Linked DNA regions of Homo sapiens: region 1 is linked to region 2. The links come from fine-mapping of genetic effects on gene expression. A gene starts in region 2. The other region holds a variant in brackets. All regions are shown on one strand. Distances are between the middles of the regions.

Region 1 (8,902 bases), 86 kb after region 2:
CTACAATATGAGAAAGATGTGATGTAATAGAAGAATGGAAATAAGACTTTTCCTTAATAATCAACATATTTCTATGAGGGAGGCTCAAAGGGCTAGAGAAAGTCTTATTTAGACAGGGAAGAAAGTTTCTCATAGAAACTATTTTAGTATTGGAGTAACTAAAATTACATTAAAAATAATGCTGATATTGTAGAATAAGTGAGCACAGCTGTGTTTTGTCAGTAGTTCATTGCATTTTTAGTTTGTCATATTAAAGATATATATTACCACATATTGTTAGTATATAAGTGAAAATTATGTAGCAAAAAGAATTTCTGTAAAATCTTCATAATATAGTGGAGATAATTTCTGCTCAATACTGGTAGTTCTAAGAAAGAAATACAATAATACATGTGAAAAGCAAACCAGAGGAATACTTTTTTTCCTTCGCTTCCATTTCCAGTTGGGGAGCTGTTAGGGATTGAGCCGTACCAACATGGCACAGAAGGATGGGTGTAGTCTGGAAAACACTCATCTCTTATTTGTCAATTTGCCTCGGTTTTAAGCAACCTGAGTTGTTTTGTATATTTGTTATCGATTGTTCTGTAAAGGTAGCCAACATGGTCATTTATCCAGCTAGTTTTTCCAAGGACTGAATTTCTCCAAGGCTCTGTCCTTAATTTCACCAACAGTAGAAACCACAAGTTAATTATTATAATCAGCAAGCTCAGAGTTGGTTTCTCTATGGACAATCCTCAGAACATTATTATGAGAATTGTTCTATTTTGAGGATTGATAAGGTGATCAAAGTGAGGCATATTTTTGTAGAATTGGTCTAATTCTGGGTGAATCATATACCATATCTCATCTAGTCAACTCAGATAAGCATTTAACCCAGTTTTTAAAGTTTGGACAAAGATTATTTTAACCCATCAAATCAAGAGATACTTTATAACATTATTTCTGCGTGTGTATATGAATTTTAATTGATTTTTCCGGGTATGAAGACTGAGACAAAAAACTGGAGGTGGCTACTGTATATACCATCTGAAATATGCTTCACTGGCAGTATCAGTAGTCCAGGATTTGATGTTTCATGGCTTCATTGTGAAAATGTTGAAGTATAAATCTTCAGCTCAGCAGTATACAACTAATAAACAAACTGGGAATGTAGTTAGTGAACAAGACAACCTGTCTCTCTTCTCATGCGGCTTTTCTTTTATTTTTATTTTTTTTATTTTTTATTTTTTTATTTTTATTTTTTTTTAAGTTTCTGAGTCTTTTTTTTATAATCTTTTTTTTATTATTATTATACTTTAAGTTTTAGGGTACATGTGCACCTTGTGCAGGTTAGTTACATATGTATACATGTGCCATGCTGGTGCACTGCACCCACTAACTCGTCATCTAGCATTAGGTATATCTCCCAATGCTATCCCTCCACCCTCCCCCCACCCCATGACAGTCCCCAGAGTGTGATATTCCCCTTCCTGTGTCCATGTGATCTCATTGTTCAGTTCCCACCTATGAGTGAGAATATGCGGTGTTTGGTTTTTTGTTCTTGCGATAGTATAGTTTACTGAGAATGATGATTTCCAATTTCATCCATGTCCCTACAAAGGACATGAACTCATCATTTTTTATGGCTGCATAGTATTCCGTGGTATATATGTGACACATTTTCTTAATCCAGTCTATCATTGTTGGACATTTGGGTTGGTTCCAAGTCTTTGCTATTGTGAATAATGCCGCAATAAATATACGTGTGCATGTGTCTTTATAGCAGCATGATTTATAGTCCTTTGGGTATATACCCAGTAATGGGATGGCTGGGTCAAATGATATTTCCAGTTCTAGATCCCTGAGGAATCGCCACACTGACTTCCACAATGGTTGAACTAGTTTACAGTCCCACCAACAGTGTAAAAGTGTTCCTATTTCTTCACATCCTCTCCAGCACCTGTTGTTTCCTGACTTTTTAATGATTGCCATTCTAACTGGTGTGAGATGGTATCTCATTGTGGTTTTGATTTGCATTTCTCTGATGGCCAGTGATGATGAGCATTTTTTCATGTGTGTTTTGGCTGCATAAATGTCTTCTTTTGAGAAGTGTCTGTTCAAGTCCTTTGCCCACTTTTTGATGGGGTTGTTTGCTTTTTTCTTGTAAATTTGTTTGAGTTCATTGTAGATTCTGGATATTAGCCCTTTGTCAGATGAGTAGGTTGTGAAAATTTTCTCCCATTTTGTAGGTTGCCTGTTCACTCTGATGGTAGTTTCTTTTGCTGTGCAGAAGCTCTTTAGTTTAATTAGATCCCATTTGTCAATTTTGGCTTTTATTGCCATTGCTTTTGGTGTTTTAGACATGAAGTCCTTGCCCATGCCTATGTCCTGAATGGTATTGCCTAGGTTTTCTTCTAGGGTTTTTATGGTTTTAGGTCTAACGTTTAAGTCTTTAATCCATCTTGAATTGATTTTTGTATAAGGTATAAGGAAGGGATCCAGTTTCAGCTTTCTGCATATGGCTAGCCAGTTTTCCCAGCACCATTTATTAAATAGGGAATCCTTTCCCCATTGCTTGTTTTTCTCAGGTTTGTCAAAGATCAGATAGTTGTAGATATGCGGCGTTATTTCTGAGGGCTCTGTTCTGTTCCATTGATCTATATCTCTGTTTTGGTACCAGTACCATACTGTTTTGGTTACTGTAGCCTTGTAGTATCGTTTGAAGTCAGGTAGTGTGATGCCTCCAGCTTTGTTCTTTTGGCTTAGGATTGACTTCGCAATGCGGGCTCTTTTTTGGTTCCATATGAACTTTAAAGTAGTTTTTTCCAATTCTGTGAAGAAAGGCATTGGTAGCTTGATGGGGATGGCATTGAATCTGTAAATTACCTTGGGCAGTATGGCCATTTTCACGATATTGATTCTTCCTACCCATGAGCATGGAATGTTCTTCCATTTGTTTGTATCCTCTTTTATTTCCTTGAGCAGTGGTTTGTAGTTCTCCTTGAAGAGGTCCTTCACATCCCTTGTAAGTTGGATTCCTAGGTATTTTATTCTCTTTGAAGCAATTGTGAATGGGAGTTCACTCATGATTTGGTTCTCTGTTTGTCTGTTGTTGGTGTATAAGAATGCTTGTGATTTTTGTACATTGATTTTGTATCCTGAGACTTTGCTGAAGTTGCTTATCAGCTTAAGGAGATTTTGGGCTGAGACAATGGGGTTTTCTAGATATACAATCATGTCATCTGCAAACAGGGACAATTTGACTTCCTCTTTTCCTAACTGAATACCCTTTATTTCCTTCTCCTGCCTAATTGCCCTGGCCAGAACTTCCAACACTGTGTTGAATAGGAGTGGTGAGAGAGGGCATCCCTGTCATGTGCCAGTTTTCAAAGGGAATGCTTCCAGTTTTTGCCCATTCAGTATGATATTGGCTGTGGGTTTGTCATAGATAGCTCTTATTATTTTGAAATACGTCCCATCAATACCTAATTTATTGAGAGTTTTTAGCATGAAGGGTTGTTGAATTTTGTCAAAGGCTTTTTCTGCATCTATTGAGATAATCATGTGGTTTTTGTCTTTGGCTCTGTTTATATGCTGGATTACATTTATTGATTTGCATATATTGAAACAGCCTTGCATCCCAGGGATGAAGCCCACTTGATCATGGTGGATAATCTTTTTGATGTGCTGCTGGATTCGGTTTGCCAGTATTTTATTGAGGATTTTTGCATCAATGTTCATCAAGGATATTGGTCTAAAATTCTCTTTTTTTATTGTGTCTCTGCCTGGCTTTGGTATCAGAATGATGCTGCCCTCATAAAATGAGTTAGGGAGGATTCCCTCTTTTTCTATTGATTGGAATAGTTTCAAAAGGATTGGTACCAGTTCCTCCTTGTACCTCTGGTAGAATTCGGCTGTGAATCCATCTGGTCCTGGACTCTTTTTGGTTGGTAATCTATTGATTATTGCCACAATTTCAGATCCTGTTATTGGTCTATTCAGAGATTCAACTTCTTCCTGGTTTAGTCTTGGGAGAGTGTATGTGTCAAGGAATTTATCCATTTCTTCTAGATTTTCTAGTTTATTTGCGTAGAGGTGTTTGTAGTATTCTCTGATGGTAGTTTGTATTTCTGTGGGATCGGTGGTGATATCCCCTTTATCATTTTTTATTGCGTCTATTTGATTCTTCTCTCTTTTTTTCTTTATTAGTCTTGCTAGCGGTCTATCAATTTTGTTGATCCTTTCAAAAAACCAGCTCCTGGATTCATTAATTTTTTGAAGGGTGTTTTGTGTCTCTATTTCCTTCAGTTCTGCTGTGATTTTAGTTATTTCTTGCCTTCTGCTAGCTTTTGAATGTGTTTGCTCTTGCTTTTCTAGTTCTTTTAATTGTGATGTTAGGGTGTCAATTTTGGATCTTTCCTGCTTTCTCTTGTGGGCATTTAGTGCTATAAATTTCCCTCTACACACTGCTTTGAATGCGTCCCAGAGATTCTGGTATGTTGTGTCTTTGTTCCCGTTGGTTTCAAAGAACATCTTTATTTCTGCCTTCATTTTGTTATGTACCCAGTAGTCATTCAGGAGCAGGTTGTTCAGTTTCCATGTAGTTGAGAGGTTTTGAGTGAGATTCCTAATCCTGAGGTCTAGTTTGATTGCACTGTGGTCTGAGAGATAGTTTGTTATTATTTCTATTCTTTTACATTTGCTGAGGAGAGCTTTACTTCCAAGTATGTGGTCAATTTTGGAATAGGTGTGTTGTGGTGCTGAAAAAAATGTATATTCTGTTGATTTGGGGTGGAGAGTTCTGTAGATGTCTATTAGGTCCGCTTGGTGCAGAGCTGAGTTCAATTCCTGGGTATCCTTGTTGACTTTCAGTCTCGTTGATCTGTCTAATGTTGACAGTGGGGTGTTAAAGTCTCCCATTATTAATATGTGGGAGTCTAAGTCTCTTTTTAGGTCACTCAGGACTTGCTTTATGAATCTTGGTGCTCCTGTATTGGGTGCATATATATTTAGGACAGTTAGCTCTTCTTGTTGAATTGATCCCCTTACCATTATGTATTGGCCTTCTTTGTCTTTTTTGATCTTTGTTGGTTTAAAGTCTGTTTTATCAGAGACTAGGATTGCAACCCCTGCCTTTTTTTGTTTTCCATTTGCTTCATAGATCTTCCTCCATCCTTTTATTTTGAGCCTATGTGTGTCTCTGCACATGAGATGGGTTTCCTGAATACAGCACACTGATGGGTCTTGACTCTTTATCCAATTTGCCAGTCTGTGTCTTTTAATTGGAGCATTTAGTCCATTTATATTTAAAGTTAATATTGTTATGTGTGAACTTGATCCTGTCATTATGATGTTAGCTGGTTATTTTGCTCATTAGTTGATGCAGTTTCTTCCTAGTCTGGATGGTCGTTACATTTTGGCATGATTTTGCAGCGGCTGGTACTGGTTGTTCCTTTCCATGTTTAGCGCTTCCTTCAGGAGCTCTTTTAGGGCAGGCCTGGTGGTGACAAAATCTCTCAGCATATGCTTGTCTGTAAAGTATTTTATTTCTCCTTCACTTATGAAGCTTAGTTTGGCTGGATATGAAATTCTGGGTTGAAAATTCTTTTCTTTAAGAATGTTGAATATTGG[C/T]CCCCACTCCCCTCTGGCTTGTAGGGTTTCTGCCGAGAGATCCTCTGTTAGTCTGATGGGCTTCCCTTTGAGGGTAACCCGACCTTTCTCTCTGGCTGCCCTTAACATTTTTTCCTTCATTTCAACTTTGGTGAATCTGACAATTATGTGTCTTGGAGTTGCTCTTCTCAAGGAGTATCTTTGTGGCGTTCTCTGTATTTCCTGAATCTGAACGTTGGCCTGCCTTGCTAGATTGGGGAAGTTCTCCTGGATAATATCCTGCAGAGTGTTTTCCAACTTGGTTCCATTCTCCCCATCACTTTCAGGTACACCAATCAGACATAGATTTGGTCTTTTCACATAGTCCCATATTTCTTGGAGGCTTTGCTCATTTCTTTTTATTCTTTTTTCTCTAAACTTCCCTTCTCGCTTCATTTCATTCATTTCATCTTCCATCGCTGATACCCTTTCTTCCAGTTGATTGCATTGGCTCCTGAGGCTTCTGCATTCTTCACGTAGTTCTCGAGCCTTGGTTTTCAGCTCCATCAGCTCCTTTAAGCACTTCTCTGTATTGGTTATTCTAGTTATACATTCTTCTAAATTTTTTTCAAAGTTTTCAACTTCTTTGCCTTCAGTTTGAATGTCCTCCCGTAGCTCAGAGTAATTTGATCGTCTGAAGCCTTCTTCTCTCAGCTCGTCAAAGTCATTCTCCATCCAGCTTTGTTCCGTTGCTGGTGAGGAACTGCGTTCCTTTGGAGGAGGAGAGGCGCTCTGCTTTTTAGAGTTTCCAGTTTTTCTGTTCTGTTTTTTCCCCATCTTTGTGGTTTTATCTACTTTTGGTCTTTGATGATGGTGATGTACAGATGGGTTTTTGGTGTGGATGTCCTTTCTGTTTGTTAGTTTTCCTTCTAACAGACAGGACCCTCAGCTGCAGGTCTGTTGGAATACCCTGCCGTGTGAGGTGTCAGTGTGCCCCTGCCTGGGGGTGCCTCCCAGTTAGGCTGCTCAGGGGTCAGGGGTCAGGGACCCACTTGAGGAGGCAGTCTGCCCGTTCTCAGATCTCCAGCTGCGTGCTGAGAGAACCACTGCTCTCTTCAAAGCTGTCAGACAGGGACATTTAAGTCTGCAGAGGTTACTGCTGTCTTTTTGTTTGTCTGTGCCCTGCCCCCAGAGGTGGAGCCTACAGAGGCAGGCAGGCCTCCTTGAGCTGTGGTGGGCTCCACCCAGTTCGAGCTTCCTGGCTGCTTTGTTTACCTAATCAAGCCTGGGCAATGGCGGGCACCCCTCCCCCAGCCTGGCTGCCGCCTTGCAGTTTGTTCTCAGACTGCTGTGCTAGCAATCAGCGAGACTCTGTGGGCGTAGGACCCTCCGAGCCAGGTGCAGGATATAATCTCGTGGTGTACCGTTTTTTAAGCCCGCCGGAAAAGTGCAGTATTAGGGTGGGAGTGAACCGATTTTCCAGGTGCTGTCCGTCACCCCTTTCTTTGACTCAGAAAGGGAACTCCCTGACCCCTTGCGCTTCCCAAGTGAGGCAATGCCTCTCCCTGCTTCGGTTCGCGCACGGTGCACGCACCCATGACCTGGGCCCACTGTCTGGCACTCCCTAGTGAGGTGAACCCGGTACCTCAGATGGAAATGCAGAAATCACCGTCTTCTGCGTCACTCACGCTGGGAGCTGTAGACCGGAGCTGTTCCTATTCGGCCATCTTGGCTCCTCCCCCTTCTTTTATTTTTTTAAAGATATTTCTATGCAGGAGAAATGTCTCTGCATTTTTTGGAGGTTAAAAGTGATTTGCTTTTTAGCCTCACATTTTATACATCTTTAAGTTAAAAAACCTAAGTATGTCTTGGTTTGGACTTCATTTCTTTGCTATCCTCTATATCTGCTAGGACTACAGCAGAAACTTGCTGGATCACATCTCCTTAAGGCAAGAAGTCCCTTGATGTTTTAATCCTCCAAATACAGTGTGGTTTCACAGTAGGAAGTGGTGTTGTGCAAGCCACAGATGATATGGGGAAGTAGTTTTCTCACCTCCCTGATTTTGACTGATCTTTGATAACAGATCAAGTAAGGTCAGAGCAGAATGAGATAACCAAGAAACAATTCTAAGTAGAGGCCTTTGGGAAGACGAGGGAGGTGAACATTAGCTGCTCAGAAAAGCCTTATCCTCGATGACAGCATGAGCAGATGGTTTGTTGTGATGTTCTGTGCCCTAGTGCAGGCCTGTCAGTGCAGGGTGGACCTGTGGGCCATGTTGTTCCAAGTCTCCAGTGTGTTATGAAATTTTTACGGGCTCTTTAATTTTTTTCATTCCTATTGTAGATTCAAGGCTACTAGAGTTGCAGATTATTATATATCTGGTCTAAAGGGAATTATAGTTGAGATTTCATGGATTTTTCTTGACAAAATTGACTAAAGTAGACATGTAGTTGTATATAACTGTAAGCTGCACATTTAAGGTATTCTTATCAGAAAACCGAAGCCTGTAAGCTGAAATACATAACACAGATATCTTTCTTTCTTCACCAGAAATCTTCCACTAATCCCGTCATTATTATCTCCTCTGCCATCTGCTTCTGTGCCCTCCTGGGCACTCTTAGTGCTTGCTTAAGGGCATGTGCTCGTGCTCTCCTCTTCTTATATTAACTGTGGATCAGGAAGAGCTAGGGAGAGAAGCAGCATACCATGTAGCCTCATACTAATCTAAGCCTCTTTCAGGTTTAGCACTAAATTGCTTCTTATTTTATACATCTAGTCTCAACATAGGGCATAATGATTTTTTGAGAGAATAAAGGACCACATGTTAGTGGAGGGAGGACTCTGATGTACTCTTCTAGGTAGAATTGATTTCTAGGCCTCTCTTCCCACAATTTGGTGGAAGAGAGGCAAGAAAATGGTAAACAAACAGTGACATTCCATTCCTGAATACATGTAAGAAAGCAAGTTTAAGGAGCATATCATTATCCCTAACATGAATTCATTGATAATAGATAAAACATGAGTCTGATATTTTGCTGCATTTTATAAATTCATGAAATTAAAGGTTTTTATTTGCTCGTGATCATCTAAGACCATTTTTTTTCTATTTAACTGTTGTGTTGTTGTTCTTGTAGCTCAAAGCATTCAGCAAACCAGGGTTCCAAGGTGAATGTATAGATTTTACAGAAGAAACTTCTGATTTGACTTCACTCATGCCATGTTCTTTTAAAGTTCTTCGAGGTTGGTAAGTATGCTTACTTAGTGGTTTCTGCTGTTATTTAATAACTAATACTTTTAAATTTACAGAGATATATTTTTTGCATGCACAGTGAA
Region 2 (8,902 bases):
TTAAAAGATGTGTGTTCGAAAGATCTCAATCTCCACATGTTCCGCAAACAAAAACCAGACAAACAATACAATAAAACATCATGCATCTCATAGAAGTTGGAATAACCAATTACTTAAAAATTTTACCATCTGTTCTCATTGAAGCAGCAAGACAGGCATTTCCCCATGTTACAAACCATGATAATTAGAAAGTAACAATGAGAAATGCTAACATCATTTTTCCCCTTTTTTATTTGCTGTGGGAGTTCTTAATGAAAATTTGAGCATATAAACAAAGGAAAAGAGAAGATATTCCCCCCACCCCACCTCCTAATTGAGTGCTTATATTCAGTAATAGCTTTTTGCTGCCCTGGGCCGCATGACACTGCCTCATTTGGCCACGCACAGCTATTATTCTAGGAGGCAGCTAGTGAAGTGCCCCAATCCATCTGCTTGCTTTTTCATGGGCTGGTGCTTTCCTTGATGTTGACAGCTGTCTTAATATTCCTGGGCCACCTGCCACACAGTAAATACTGTGCTCTAAGATATATACAGAAGCTTATTCCCTGGTGGACTTTTCAGAACAAAAACGCTTAGCATTACTAAACTACTCTTGCAGTTTAAATGCTTCAAGGATCAACACTTTCATTCTATTCTCATACCTTTGAGAATGGTACTTACGTTGTGGGAATGGCAATTCAGTTACAGTGTGATGAACTTCAGGATTTCTCATATATCACACAAGTTATTGAATTACAGTATTATAGGTGGAAATCAGGTGCTAAAAGGAGGCAGAGAAGAAGAGAGCATATTAACAGTTATCTCCTCTAGTGAGCCTTCCAGGAACCCTTCAGATTAAGTTGGGGATCCGTCCTATGTTTCCCATCTTACCCCATTTGCTCATCTTGCCCAATTAAACTTGCTCCTTGATGTTAAGCATTTGGTCTTATCTATCACCGTATCTCTATGTCTAAGAATGAGCATGTATCTGACACATAGTATGCACTAGAGGACATATCCAGGTTTTGTGGGATCTGAAGTTTTTACAATTTGGAGGGTCCTCTTTAAAGAAAAAGGATTTAAAAGAAAATTAGATATAAAAATGAATATATTGAATGAAAACATAAACCATGCAAATTACTAATTTTAAAAGGTTGACTAGAAAAACAATTTGTTTTCTTACTAAATGCCTTGCACAATCACTTTTTTTCCTATATTTTTGGCAGTGTACTCTTCAATAGCCTTTCATATGACAATAATTTAGTAATATTATTTTCCATAATAATGAAAAGATAATGCAATCTTTCCTCTAGTTCTGTTTTTCTTATTGATAGAAAGGCTGTGTAAACATGCAGTACTACACACACACACACAAAGCTTGTGGTACTGCTACAGGTTTGTACCCTACAAACAAGAATTCTGATAAATTCTATTTTACATGGTTTACATCAACAAGAAAAAATGTTTTGTGTTTACAGTTATAAAAATTATTTTGGGTGGCTGAGACGGGTGGATTACCTGAGGTCAGGAGTTCGAGACCAGCCTGACCAATATGGTCAAACCCCGTCTCTACTGAAAATACAAAAATTAGCTGGGCATGGTGGTGGGCGCCTGTAGTCCCAGCCACTCTGGAGGCTGAGACAGGAGAATTGCTTGAACCCAGGAGGCGGAGGTTTCAGTGAGTTGAAATTGCACCACTGCACCCCAGCCAAGGTGACAGCGCCAGACTCTGTCTCAAAAAAAAAATTAAATATACTGCATTATTGAATATATTATTGCTATGAGAGAAATTACATCAATCGGAGGCAATCCTTCCTGTTGAAACTTTGTCTTCTGATGCCTGGAATAATTTTCCACATGACACCTGATGCTGCTTTACCTTTCAAATCTTGTCTCACCTCTATTACCCACATATTTTCAGTGTCAGAGACCACAGAATATATCTCCTCTGGCTCTGCATCTTGGGTGTAATACTTGGTGAGCTGCGCTACAAACAAATTGGAATTTAAGAAATAACTATACTTTGGAGAGGCTGGAAACCACATAAATATATTCCACTAAGTCCAAACTAAATATATTCCCAACTGAAATTCCCTAGCAGATTCCCAAATGCTCTTGATAACTCTAAGTGGAAAAGAAAATCTAAGTGGACATCTAAGTGGAAAAAAAAAGAGATTGTGGTCTTAATCACATTAAAACATTTACTTTTGTAAATTTGATAAAACTGGCCATGGATCCCATTGCTGAGTTCACACTGGAAGAGACTGTGCCAGCAGGGAGCCAAGAAACTTGAGCCTCATCGGCTTCACTGTAGATGTGCTTCTACTGCAGGCACTCACTAAACGTCGGGGAATAACTGGATCAGTGAATTAATGACACTGTGCTAAATTAGTATCTCTAAGATCCTTACAGCTCTAAAATTTGACATTTTTACAGGCTTCCTAATGCAATCTTAGAATTTAGTATTTAGAAATTTGTTCATATGAGTTCAGGTTATAACAATGTAGGACATATAGAAAACTAATAAGTGCTCAGAAAGCAAATGAAGGAAAATTCAATGGTCATTGTTTTATGACTTTAAGCTATTTTGTCATAGACGCAATTTGTCTTAGTGTAAACATGGCATTATTTGTATTTACCATTCACTTAAGTGCTTTGCTGTGCTACCGAGTGGAGATCAGAGTATTGTTAGATATATTATTAGTTAAAACCATAATTCATTAATTAAATCCTATTGACTCCCCCCCATTTTTATTCCAAGAAAAACTTCCTGAACGAAGTACCCTCTGGGTAGGCACTGGGGCCTGGTTTGATCACAGAACAAGTCAGGGACAAATGTGATAGTCATTCAATAATACGTTGGGAAGACAAATTATCATTTGGGCCTTTTAGCTGGAAGAAACAGTTTGCTTTATTACTCTCTTTGGGCTTTTTGGTAAGTGGGTCTTCAGTGGAGATTCTCTTATAAAATAATAAAGCTAGAATTGGGAACTTGTCTTATTCTAGTCTATTATCTTAGTCTTTTTCTATTTTCTCAGACTAGGCTCACAGAGAAATAGGAAAAATTTACCAAAGAGTAAAAAAGGATTAATCTTGAGGGATAGACTGAGATGAACCCGATTGATGGAAATCGGGCTGACTGAACTTTAATGGGTTAAATCCTGCCAGAACAAATGAGAATGAGTGTCTTGGCTCTATTGCAGTTAGTAGGAGCTGGAGGGCTTCTGGGAGGCAGCGTGGGGAGGCAGGGAGGCTCAATAGCCTCCAGCAGGTGCTGAAAGGACTTGGGGCTTATAGGTATGCAATCTACTTATGAGCAACCTTCTCCTCCAGCACCCGAAAGCCAGAGGGGAGATTACTCCAAGGCTCCCCTCTGCTGTGGACATTTCATTTTTATCTCATTTACTTGTATACATTTTTTAATGAACAAAAGCCATATCACTTCCTTGACGTCTACTCCAGGGGCAGCTTGCCTTCAAACAAAAACAAAACACTTGGGGTGAATGGGCCTCTCAGTATCTCCTGTACTAGCTGCTATAGGGTATGAAAAACCAAGAAAAATCCATACCACTGTACTTAGACTTAAAACAAGTCTTAAGCACCCTTTGGTTCCCAGATTTCAGTGGCATCTGTGTAACGACTGCAAAATATGTTGCAGCATTGACAAGCTTGAAATCATACTTTTTGATCAGTGCCGTTTTTGAAAGAGTTCGCAGGGAAGTATGGCGTGTGAAAAGTCTGAAGCACAGCGCGGTTAGGAAAAGTCACACCACAGAAAGCCAGCAGAACGCGCCGGGAGGTGGTGACCGCCTGACAGGTACCCCCTTCTCCCTCCCGCCGCCCGGTTCTGTGCTAACGCGACTTTCGCCCTCAGGGTTGGAGCTGTATTTGCGGTAGCTGTTTCTTAGCTCCCAGCAAGTCCGGGGCGCCCCGGTACTGCAGTTTGCCAAGTGTTTTCACAAACCTTAGTTCATAAACCTCTTTCAAAAGCCCGAAGAAAACCGTTTCTGTGCTCTGACTGTAGAATAGAAAACACAACGGTCACAGAAAGTAATTGAAGGCAAAGCCCAACAGGCTGCAGCCTGAACTTGTTTGAGCCGTAAGCCCGAGCCTAGCGTCGCACGCTGGGCGACTCCCCTCAGGCTCTCAGGCCGGCGCCTTCGGGGGACCACGTAGCGCCCCAGCGGTGGCGGCTGCGCCCGGCTCAGGGCGGTGCCGCGGCCACTGGCTCCTCCTCGGGGTGGGGCGGGCCGCGCCGGGCGAGGGCGGGAGGAGGAGCAGCCGCAGCGGCGTGAGGAGCTGCCGCGCGAGGAGCGCGTCGCGTCCGCACTTCTCCTGCCCGAGAGAGACTGAGCCGCGCTGGCAGCTCGCGTCGAGTCGGTCTGCCCTAGCCGCATCCCGCGGCGCCCGGTCGGGCTCCGGGCACCAGGCAACACCTAGGCCGTTCCCTTCAGACAGCCCCGGGCCAGCGGCCCCCTCGGGAAATGTCCAGCGGCCGCAGAAGGGGCAGCGCCCCCTGGCACAGCTTCTCCCGGTTCTTCGCTCCCCGAAGTCCTTCCCGGGACAAGGAAGAGGAAGAGGAGGAGAGGCCGGGGACGAGCCCGCCTCCAGCTCCAGGCCGGTCCGCTGCCAGGTGGGAGTCGAGGAGGGGGTCGCGGGGGGGCCCTGCACATATTCGCGGGATGAAGGCTCCCGGCCTGACCGCCGGCAGCGGGCCGCTCTTGGGCCAGGCTGCAGTTCGCTCGCCACTTTCTGTTCTCCTTCCTCCATTGCTAAAGTTTCCTCCTCCTTGCCCCGTTCCCGTGCCGCACTACTCGCCTCTCCTCTGCAGGTTAAATCGGGGTGAAGTTCTTGCCCGGCAGCCGGACGCATATCCCCCGATCCCCGCCTGGCTCCGCGCTCTTCCTTTCCCACTTTCCCCTGCCCGGACGTGATTGGGTTCCCGTTCCACACACGCTCTACTCTCCAAGTTCTGTGGCAAAAGCGATTTCCCCGGCGTCCCGCCTGCAGTAATGGGAAACACTTGTGAGCCGAGCGGAGCCGTCGGCCAGGGGAATTGGGGGCGCGATCCCAGCACCACTTGTGTGGGAGGAGATCGGGGCAAAAGTGGAAAAGGTAAAGCTTTGGGGCGTCACCCCCTCAGCTGGTATTTTTGCCATCTTATTTAAATTTTCTCAAAATGATTTTTAAAAGGAATTGTGATAATGCGTTCCCAAGACTTTCACCAAAATGGACTGGACATGTAAATGACGCCACCCTTCTTTATTTCTCATCTCTCCTAGAAACATCTGCCTCAAGTTCCCAAACAGATTCTGGAAATCAGGTTTCCAGCTGTCTTGGTTTCAGTAATCAAAATGTACCCTTTCTCTGTAATATTTTTATCTTTCCTTCACTTTCCCATGTTCAAAAATCAAAAAATTTTAGACATGCCTCATTTAAATGCCTGTTTCTGAGTCTTTTCATCCCCCCGAAGAAAGAGGGGTTAAGTAAAACGCAGCTCGCTTTCTTAAACTTATGAGAGGCTTACACTGTCTTCTCCCGAGATTGCACTAGAATGACCATTGTCATTGGAAGGACACACTCCAGAAAACCGTGTTTACTTCGGACTCAAGATTTCCTGGTGGGCTTAAAAAAAATGGATAGGAAACAGAACTGAGAGTGAGCCAATTCCATTAGTATTCAGATTTTGTGATGTGATTTTAGTCGTTTGTGTGTTCCTCGGTTTCCCCGCTTGTGAAACATTTTCATTATGACCGTCTGTTAATAACATGCCACATGTTTCCAAGAAAGCTCCTACGATAATTGAGTGGTTATTCTCCTGGGACGTTTCAGCTATTATTGCTCTGACTGTTGAGAGTTTAAAATTCAAAGTTACACAGAAGTTAAAAATAGTTTTTAAGTCTGACAGATCTCATCCAGGGTGTCAGCTAGTTCTGTTGGTGTGGGCAGACAGCCTGTGGTGCCTGCCACCGCCGTAACAGCACTAACAGTCTTGGATAATATGAACGCAGTCTGCAAGGAAATCCCAAGTAGGCGCAGCAAAAGTTGGGAACTTGAGAGTCAGTGTTAGAAAGGAGTAAGCAGGTCAAATTCAGGCTCATGTCAGTAATGGCCTGAAATCCTGCTTGCCTCTCTGCCCTATTTTGGCTTTTTAAGGCACTTCTCAATTCTAATTTCTTTACTGACTGGAGCTGACCCCTCCAGCAACTAGTTCCTTGTTCACCTACCACTTCTCTATTCTCATCATCTCCAGATTGGCACAAATTATGGCTTTTCAACGATGAAGATTTTAATTGTGCTTATATCAACGCTAATTTTGTTCTCATCTTTTTTGGAACTTGCCAGATGTTAGGGGGATAGCAGATGACCCTTTATGTGGGTGTTTTACTGTTTTAAATGAGCTTAAATCTTTCATTTCAAGGGCATAAACAAACACAAAGCCTTTATTGAAAGTTTAATAAAACAAATGGAACCGCTTTATAGTACTGAATGTCCCAGTAACACAACACCCTGATGTTAACAAGATTGGAAACAGAATTGCAATTTGTCACTGTGATCTTATTTCAAAATGAAAGAGTATTTTGGCTATTTCTCTTTGTGGGCATAAAAACTTTTATCATTATGAGAGCTGGGTATACCTTCTGTAGTGATGATTTTAGATGAAGAGGAGTACAAAATTAAAAAATAAACTAAAACATAATTATGAGACCCGTAAAAGTCGAATTTACAACATCCTGAAACTGTTTTTTTGCCTGCTCACAAAATGCGTACTGGGACAAACACCAGGTCTTTGGGGAGCTGCCATGCCTTGATACAGGTCTTCCAATATTTTACTGTTTTGAACCATAGGAAAATCTTTGTTTTTATGGTGTGCTGTGATTTATATGGGCTTCAGTTGGTGACAACACTTCATTATGTATTCTTTCTTTGTCACAATTAAAGAAGGCCTATTAGCATCAACACTATTGTATATCCCAACTTAGGCGTAGGCACTCAAATTGCTTGATTGTACTCATATTAGGTGGTTGACCATTTCCAGGAAATGCTTATATTAATTTATTTTAGATGATAAAAAGGAAAACTGCAATTGAAGTTTTCATAGGAAACTCAAAAACTCCCAGAGTTCTGTGGATCCCAGTTTGAGAATCACTGGTGCAGTGTTAAGCCCAGTTTATAAGCATACAAGGAATGGACTCATTAGAAGTGATAGGGGAGACCAGGAAGTGCTTCCTGGTAGGGATGATTTTAACTGGGTCTTCAAGGAATTGGTGATGTTTCTATACAAAGAGAACTTAGGAAGAGAGAGAATAGGGAACAGGTATTCCGGGAAAAGGCATTCCAGACTGAGCAAAGGCCTGCAAGGGGTTTATGATCTGTTAGGGGATATATACATTAATGGGACAGAGTGAAAGGAGCAGTAAGAAATTTAGGTTGGAACTGGGTTATAAAGGTCTCTAGACAAAATGTTTGGCTCTAGATTTAAGGCTCAGAGAATTTTTGCAAAAGCCTGTTATACAGATATTGCTGAAATATGAAACTTGGAGGAATTCCTGCCTTTATCTGCTTCAAGAAATGATTGCTCAACTTTGTTTCTTGGCTGTATCATGCATGATGGACCTGTTTAAAATGAGTTCTGTGCAATGTTTGTAACTGTGAAGAGAGATGGTAAGGTGAGAACAGTATTTATCAAGGGCTGACTGTGCACTTACTTCTGGGCTGGGTACTTTTACTTGCAACGTATCATGTAAATCTCACACTCAGTGTGAAATGTTGGTCCACTTTTACGATCTGACAATTGAAGAAACTGAGTTTGGGAGAGTGCTCAGTGATGGATGCTATGGGCGTTTTGAATGGAACAATTCTTTGAACTGGACTCTTTTGTCCTTTGCAAGATGTTTGGTATCCATGATTACACACACTAATTGCCAGTAGCATCCTCTGGTCATTGGGATAACTGAAAATTCCTCCACCCAGGTGGGTGGGAGGGAGAGTGATACCACTCCCAGTGGAGAGTGATTACCCTAAATCGTGAGAGGAGGTGAATGGGTGGGACCAGGCTGCTAATGAGCTGTGGTGTAGGAGGTACTCTGTACTGTCAGAAATGTCAGTAGTACTTCTGATGACCAGCATGGGAGAGCTATTGGCCTTCAGGTTAAACTACCAGTGTTGACAACAGCATCAGTTATGTGAGGAAAGGAAGCTTTGTTTTCTAAATTGTCATGATGATTGCATTTTTATTGATTTGAAGCACTAAAAATAATTGGTAACTAGTTAGTTGGATAGGAGATACCTGTGTCACATCAGCAGTTCATGCCTTCAGTAGTGAAGATGACGAGAGAATTCCAGAAGTCTTTAGGGGTGTGTAATTTGTGAGAATCTTGTCCCCCTCTGCTCCTCTAGGTTAATTCAAAGCAAAAGCTTACTCTTGGCAGCAGAGTCAAAATATAGCCTGTTGTAGGGTATCAAAAGTCCACCTTTTCCAAGTGATTTCCATCTCTTGGGTTCAATAAGGTGTCTACCAGATGGCTAATTTGGGAATTCTATTTTTTGCTGTGAACATTCCTTGGAAATGGACTCAATTGTATGCTCTGAAAGTGTTAAAGTTGCAAAGGTACCACAAATTGACCTGCAGTAAGTTTATATAATCAGAACTTCTAACTTTATTGACAGTTATAACATTTTTAAGTTTTTTTACTCATAACAGCGGAAAATATGTAAAAAGGGTAATAGCAAGTTTTGTAAAATAAGAGAAAATATTCCCTCAAGACAAAATATTTTCTATCCAAAGTTCTGATGAAATATACCAAAGTCCAGATATAAGAAACGTTAGTTACCAATTATTAAATAAAATGATAGCAACAAACTGTAGGTGGTTGTAAAATTAAGGAAAATAATCTAGGCTATATGCTGAAAAGAAGGAATC

Evidence for each region. PIP is the estimated chance that this variant, and not a neighbour inherited with it, causes the effect.
Region 1: its variant is the best candidate, but not a certain one, in a credible set for the expression of CRYBG3 in whole blood (INTERVAL, PIP 0.53).

The regions. Positions count from the first base shown.
Region 1 is chr3:97,903,464-97,912,365 of GRCh38, forward strand. It overlaps CRYBG3 (crystallin beta-gamma domain containing 3), which reads left to right. Exons shown (of 22, transcript NM_153605.4): 16 at 8,704-8,813. Among named protein-coding and RNA genes, the nearest start is that of RIOX2, 65 kb to the right of the region's middle. RefSeq lists enhancers at 6,399-6,989, 6,990-7,579. The variant C/T (reference allele first, on the strand shown) is at 5,611.
Region 2 is chr3:97,817,744-97,826,645 of GRCh38, forward strand. It overlaps CRYBG3 (crystallin beta-gamma domain containing 3), which reads left to right and starts at 4,268. Exons shown (of 22, transcript NM_153605.4): 1 at 4,268-4,612. The coding sequence starts at 4,464. It overlaps LOC101929298 (a long non-coding RNA gene), which reads right to left and starts at 4,033. Exons shown (of 3, transcript XR_427389.3): 1 at 3,944-4,033; 2 at 661-760. RefSeq lists a silencer at 4,045-4,414.